Homo sapiens: one gene and its partner. The protein of the gene in region 1 purifies or fractionates together with the protein of each later gene. This does not show direct contact. Each region holds a gene or a part of one and is shown on either strand. Other genes may lie near its edges.

Region 1 (3,646 bases):
AGTTTGAGACCAGTCTGGGCAACATAATGAGACCCCATCTCTACAAAAAATAAAAATATTAGCTGGGTGTTGTGGCACCAGCTTGTAGTCCCAGCTACTCTGGAGGCTGAGGTGGGAGGATCTCTTGAGTCTGGGAGGTCAAGACTGCAGTGAGCCATGATCACACCACTGCACTTTAGGCTAAGCAACAGAACAAGACTCTGTCTCAGAAGTAGGGGCTGAGAAATAACCACTATTTGGATTTAGAAATTGAGTTCTTTGGGCCATGCGCGGTGGCTCACACCTGTAATCTCTTTGGGAGACTGAGGCGGGTGGATCACGAGGTCAGGAGATTGAGACCATCCTGGCTAACACGGTGAAACCCCGTCTCTACTAAAAATACAAAAAATTAGCTGGGCGTGGTGGCACGCACCTGTAGTTGCAGCTACTTGGGAGGCTGATGCAGGAGAATTGCTTGAACCCGGGAGGCAGAGGTTGCAGTGAGCCGAGATCGCGCCACTGCACTCCAGCCTGGGTGACAGAGAGGGACTCCATCTCAAAAAAAAAAAAAAAAAAAAAAAAGAGGTTGAGTTCTTTATAGTAAAATACTATACGTGGAAATCAGATTTTAGTGAGTTGAAGGACTGTGGCTGAGAAAATGGAGACACTTATAGGTTGACTGCTTAAGGAGGAAGAGGCACTGCCATTTATTGAATGTCTACTGGCTTTCAGGTACTCTACTCAGGGTATTTTTTTTTTTTTTTTTTTTTTTTTTTTTTTTGAGACGGAGTCTCGCTGTGTCTCCCAGGTTGGAGTGCAGTGGCGCGATCTCGGCTCACTGCAAGCTCCGCCTCCCAGGTTCATGCCATTCTCCTGCCTCAGCCTCCCAAGTAGCTGGGACTACAGGCGCCCGCCAACACGCCCGGCTAATTTTTTGTATTTTTAGTAGAAACGGGGTTTCACCGTGTTAGCCAAGATGGTCTCGATCTCCTGACCTCGTGATCCGCCCGTCTCGGCCTCCCAAAGTGCTAGGATTACAGGCGTGAGCCACCGCGCCCAGCCTCAGGGTATGTTATATCAGACACGTAGAATGGATTTGATTGCTCTGTCGAACATTTATTTTAGCTAAGAAATTTATGTCTTTCACCCATAGTCATTTTCACTTTGATGTATGTTTAAAGTGCGAATATCTTAATAAGGAAAGGGAACCTCTTTCACTCCTTGAGGCAAAATTCTTGTTCTTCATCTCATATGAGGGGAAAGTTGGTACTGGATTTTGTCTACATTATATCCTCCATCCTCTTCTAAGCCCAAACAGATTTGGGCCGTTATCCCACCTTCCTTCACTCCAGGCCCGGTATGAAAGCCAGCGGATCCAGCTGGAGTCGGAGCTGGCTGTGCAGCTGGAGCAGCGGGTGACAGAGCGGCTGGCGCAGGCTCAGGAGAGCAGCCTACGGCAAGCAGCCTCCCTCAGGGAACATCACAGGTACGTGGGACTCACTGGGTGTCACTTCTCTCAGCCACAGCACGTATCGTTAGTGCCAGGCCTGTGTTCCCTTCAATCCCTTTGCCATGGTCCAGCACTGTGACTCCCAGGGTGCGCTAACTCCCATCAGCTGGGACCTGAGTCTCTCTCGGGAGGGCTGCCTTCACGCGTTCATGGAGAGCCAGAAGTGCCTGGGAATTTTCATCCCATAGGGAGTAGCCCTTAACCAAGAACTGATGGGTGCAGAATGATAGATGGTCCAGCTCCCTCACTGGGACAGTGCTGAGGTATGACCTGTGCTGTCTCCAGAGCTGCTCTGTCGGACTGAGCCTCCTCGCAGCCTGGCCTCACTTCTCCTCACACCCATTCTGCTGCCGAGATTTTCTGGAACTGCTTCCGAAATAAATTTATTTAAGTCTCTGCTTCTGAGGAACCCATCCTAAGACCCCAGCTTTGTCCTTGCCGCTTCCTGTGCCATGGCCAGGCTAGCTGACTGGCTATCTGGGTCACTGTCATGTGCACACATGATGTCTTTTTCTCAGTTGGTCACTTCTTCTGTCTCCAGTCTCAGGCCTCTTCTCCTACCTGTGCCCTGTAGGAAGCAGCTGCAGGACCTGAGTGGACAGCACCAGCAGGAGCTGGCCAGTCAGCTAGCTCAGTTCAAGGTGGAAATGGCAGAACGAGAGGAACGGCAACAGCAGGTGGCTGAGGACTACGAGCTCAGGTCCTGGTCCCCAGAGTGCCCCTTTCAGGCCCCAGCCCCTTTCCCATGGGTAGAGCCCAAACTGGGAACGGTGAAGAGCTGCTCCCTTGATTGATCTGTCCTCCTCTACATGGGCCCCAGCTCCTTTCAGAATATCAGATGTCCAACATTTCCCTTCTGGCTCTTTTTAGCTCCCAAGTATCTGCTTCCTTAAAGGCCCTGAGTCACTTCTTCTCTCTTTGCTTCAGACTGGCCCGGGAGCAAGCGCGAGTGTGCGAACTGCAGAGTGGGAACCAGCAGCTGGAGGAGCAGCGGGTGGAGCTGGTGGAAAGACTGCAGGCCATGCTGCAGGCCCACTGGGATGAGGCCAACCAGCTGCTCAGCACCACTCTCCCGCCGCCCAACCCTCCAGTACGCCTTACCCCTTGAGCTAAGCTTCTCCGTTATGTTCTATTTTTATTTTTATTTTTGAGACAGGGTCTCACTCTTGCCCAGGCTGGAGTGTACTGGTGAGATCATAGCTCATTGCAGCCTCGAACTCCTGGGCTCAAGTGATCCTCCCACCTCTAACTCCCAAAGTGCTGGGATTCCAGGCATAAGCTACCATGCCCAGCAAGAACTGTGTTCTAGATTCCTTCTTTGGAAATCTAGCTCCCTCCCAAGGGAAGTACTAAGTTCAGCTCCTAAGGCCTACATCAGGGGAGAAAAATCGGTGGACTTTACAAATAATAACTGCCTCAGCAAAATAAATCCTTTTTTCCATGGCCATAGCTCACTCAGACTGGCCCCATTCCATTGGGCATAACTCTAGTCTCCCAGTCCCAAGAGGGGACAAATGATACGTGGTACTAGTTTTGTGGAGGGACAGCTGAATTAATTATGAGGGAAAGGGCCAAAAATTGTTGCCAAGTCCTGCCCCAGAGTAGAGTAGGGAGTCTCACTTCCTAGCCCTTCATACGTTGATACTTCCCACTTCCTTCTTTTAATTATGAAATTCTAGCAGGTGTGGTGGTGCGCCTGTAATCTCAGCTATATGGGAGGCTAAAGCAGAAGGATCACTTGAGCTCAGGAGTTCAAGACTAGCCTAGGCAACATAGTGAGACCTCATCTCAAAAAAAGAAAAAGAAGAAAAAATTAGGATATTTTAATTTTAATTTTATTTATTTATATACTTATCATTTATTTATTTGAGACAAGGTCTCACTCTGTTGCCCAGAGCGCTCAAGCAATCTTCCTTCCTCAGCTTCCTGAGTAGCTGGGACTACACACACGTGCCATTGCCCCCAGCTAATTTTTAAATTTTTTGTAGAGATGGCATCTCTCTATGTTGCCAAGCCTGGTTCAAACTGCCAGCCTCAAACGGTCCTCCCAAAGTGTTGGGATTACAGGTGTGAGCCACTGCATCCGGAAATTTATAATCTTATTAAAGTGTTTGTACCATGTCTTATCTCTTTAAACCTACTGTGCTTTGACCCTTC
Region 2 (3,646 bases), on another chromosome or scaffold:
CCGCGCTTCTGCTTGATGACAGCCTGCTGGGTAAAGGCCTGGGTTGGACCAGTGACAATTCTATACCCACGTGTTACCTCAGTTCACCCACTAAAATGATTATATACAAATTACCCACAACACAAACTAAAACATATTTCCTCATCAAATGGAACAAAGAAAGATTTCTTTCAATGAAGTGATTTTCAGTCTTTTCCCTGCCCCCTAACTGCTGACTGGTGGGTGGGCCAGTTCACAGTCAAAGAACCAAGACATGTGAGGGGGGAGGGAGGGTCCTCAGGGGGTTCTGGTCCTGGTTCCGGTGGCTCTGGAGGCCCGGCAACACCTCCGTGTCTCACAGGGGTCAGCATTCCTCGGATCCCACGTGCATGCAGGACAGCAAATTTGCTTTTTGCTCAAGCAAATTAAAAATGAGTTTCTTAGCCGGGCGCGGTGGCTCACGCCTGTAATCCCAGCACTTTGGGAAGCTGAGGCAGGTGGATCACGAGGTCAGGAGATCGAGACTATCCTGGCTAACACGGCGAAACCCCGTCTCTACTAAAAATACAAAGACTTAGCTGGGCGTGGTGGCGGGCGCCTATAGTCCCAGCTACTTGGGAGGCTGAGGCAGAAGAATGGCGTGAACCCTCGAAGTGGAGCTTGCAGTAAGCTGAGGTCGTGCCACTGCACTCCAGTCTGGGCAACAGAGCGAGACTCCGTCTCAAAAAAAGAAAAGGTTTCTTTCACTTGCAAATGTGAGTTCAAACTAACAGCAGATACTTACTGTCATGCCTCCCGAAAGAAAAACCAGAATAAAAGCAGGGGTGCCAGACAGGAAGCCAGACCACGGGCACCCGACCAACGCACTGAGACGCCTTTCATGCAAAGGACCCGTGAGCTCCACTGCTGGGAGAGGGGGAACCTTGCATTTCAGATAAAAGTTACTGGGTTAGGCCGGGCGCAGTGGCTCACACCTGTAATCCCAGCACTTTGGGAGGCCGAGGTGGAAGGATAACTCAAGGCCAGGAATTCAAGACCAGCCCGGGCAACAGCAAGACTGTTTATACAAAAAGTTTTTAAAATGAGCCAGGCAACAGGGCGCGGTGGCTCACGCCTGCAATCCCAGCACTTTGGGAGGCCAAGGTGGGGGGATCACCAGAGATTGGGAGTTCAAAACCAGCCTGATCAACATGGAAACTCCATCTCTACTAAAAATACAAAATTAGCTGGGCGTGGTGGCACATGCCTGTAATCCCAGCTACTCAGGAGGCTGAGGCAGAAGATCGCTTGAACCCGGGAGGCGGAGGTTGCCATGAGCCGAGATCGCACCATTGCACTACAGCCTGGACAACAACAGCAAAACTCCGTCTCAAAAAAAAAAAAATCAGCTAGGCGTGCTGACACGCATCGATAGTCACCGCTACCCCAGAGACCAAGGCAGGAGGATCACTTAAGCCCAGGAGTTCATGGCTGCCGTGAGCTATGATTACACCACTGCACTTCAGCCTGCTCAATGGAGCAACACCCTGACTCTAAAAACAGTAATAAAATGTTTAAAATAGAAAAAGGGGCGGAGGCTGAGATTAACCCAGCGTCTTGCTCGAGGGCACATTGCTCCTGAGCAGCAGATCTAAGAGCAGGTTCCACGGCCGCGGGTCTCAGAACTCTTGATCTTGGGCCTCTAAGTTGTTATCTGCCTCACCTGATGCTTATGTAGCAAGGACCAGCAAAGCCATCCTAAGCGCCTGAGTATCATTTTACAGGAATTAGACTGTGACTTCTGCTAGTAAATTAGCACATCTGTAGTCTACAGTTTTAAAGCACTGAACCTCCTGGCCAGGAAGAGGCATGAGAACTGAGTGAATAACTAAGTCACCCTTTCCCTCTGACACGTGAATAACCCAGGGGGCTAACATAACACTGTGCTCCGTAATCCTTAGATCTCTACGGGACGACTTCTGAATTCTAGCTATTACAAATTCAGCAACTGACCAATCAAAAAGGCAGAATTCGGCCAGGCACAGTGGCTCACTCCTGTAATCCCAGCACTTTTTGGGGCTGAGGTGGGTGGATCATTTGAGATCAGGAGTTCGAGACCAGCCTGGCCAACATGGTGAAACCCCGTCTCTACTAAAAATACAAAAAATAGCTGGGTGTGGTGGCAGGTGCCTGTAGTCCCAGCTACTCGGGAGGCTGAAGCAGGAGAATCGCTTGAACCCAGGAGGCAGAGGTTGCAGTGAGCTGAGATGGTGCCACTGCACTCCAGCCTGGGCGACAGAACAGGACACCGTCTCAAAAAAAAAAAAAAAAAAAAAAAATGGCTGGGCGCAGTGGCTCACGCCTGTAATCTCAGCACTTTGGGATGCCAAGGTGGGCGGATCACCTGAGGTTGGGAGTTCGTGGCCAGCCTGACCAACATGGAGAAACCTCATCTCTACTAAAAATACAAAAAATAGCTGGGCGTGGTAGCGCATGCCTGTAATCCCAGCTACTCGGGAGGCTGAGGCAGAAGAATTGCTTGAACCCGGGAAGTGGAGGTTGCAGTGAAACGAGATCTCGCCATTGCACTCCAGCCCGGGCACCCAGAGCAAAACTCCACGTCGAAAAAAAAAAAAGGTAGAATTTTAGGCAGGGAACATGATAAAGACCCATAGATCCCTTCAGGGAAACACTGCTGCTGCCCCACACGTTTAATGGAGTTCTGTTTAGCAGGAATGTGCCTGATCTAAAGGTGGCATCATTCAGTTACTAAAACATACTTTGGGCCGGGCACAGTGGCTCACACCTGTAATCCCAGCACTTTGAGGCTGAGGCTGAGGCGGGCGGATCACGAAGTCAGGAGATCGAGACCATCTTGGCTAACACGGTGAAACCCCGTCTCTACTAAAAATACAAAAAATTAGCCGGGCGCGGTGGCGGGCGCCTGTAATCCCAGCTACTCAGGAGGCTGGGGCAAGAGAATGGCATGAACCCGGGAGGCGGAGCTTGCAGCGAGCCGAGATCACGCCACTGCAGTCCAGCCTGGGCGAAAGAGCGAGACTCCGTCTCAAAAAAAAAAAAAAAAAAAAACAACTTTGAATTAAGTGAAAAGCTCACAGTGGTCTCAACGCCACATCCTCCCTCAACACCACGTCCTCCCTCAACACCAGGTCCTCCTGTGACCAGCACACAGAGGAACCTCACGACTTACACTGGACTTTGTCCTGCTGGTCAGGTGGCACCAGTGGGCCCGGGGGCTTCAGTGGGGCCTCGGGGAGAGACGAGGGGCCACTGTGGGATCTGTCCTCCTGGAGGCCATCTTGCTCGGCCGACGCGCCGTCCATGGTCAGGACGACACCAGCTGAGCTGACGCTGAGGGGCTACAAGTGAACCTTGGACAAGCTTGGCTTCTGCCATCAGCAACAGCCAAGAGCTCCTGGGAGGGGCCCTACTGTGTCTCCCATTTTCAGGAGAAGATCTGATGACTCACAAATGACTTGATGTCAAACCAGCTAATATCATGATACCTGACAGGAGAGAGAGACAAAATGTATTATGAAACTTGTCAGATTTCAAGTATCAATTACAAAATTAGCATTTGGTTCCCAATTTGCATACGTACAAGAAACAAATACAAACTTTTTCATTCAGCAAATAATCCTGGAGCACCCACAACATCCTAGGTTTT

Evidence for each region. Proteins that work in one complex are often made in the same cells at the same time.
Region 2: the proteins of CNTROB (region 1) and GOLGA3 purify together in Homo sapiens (affinity purification with mass spectrometry; one large-scale study listed by BioGRID and IntAct). This does not show direct contact.

What each region holds. Positions count from the first base shown.
Region 1 is NC_000017.11:7,942,060-7,945,705, forward strand, and holds part of CNTROB (centrobin), read left to right. Parts: intron 1-1,331; coding exon 1,332-1,465; intron 1,466-2,063; coding exon 2,064-2,189; intron 2,190-2,416; coding exon 2,417-2,579; intron 2,580-3,646. UniProt on the Homo sapiens protein: Required for centriole duplication. Inhibition of centriole duplication leading to defects in cytokinesis.
Region 2 is NC_000012.12:132,818,827-132,822,472, forward strand, and holds part of GOLGA3 (golgin subfamily A member 3), read right to left. Parts: intron 3,486-3,646; 5' UTR 3,303-3,485; coding exon 3,170-3,302; intron 1-3,169. UniProt on the Homo sapiens protein: Golgi auto-antigen; probably involved in maintaining Golgi structure.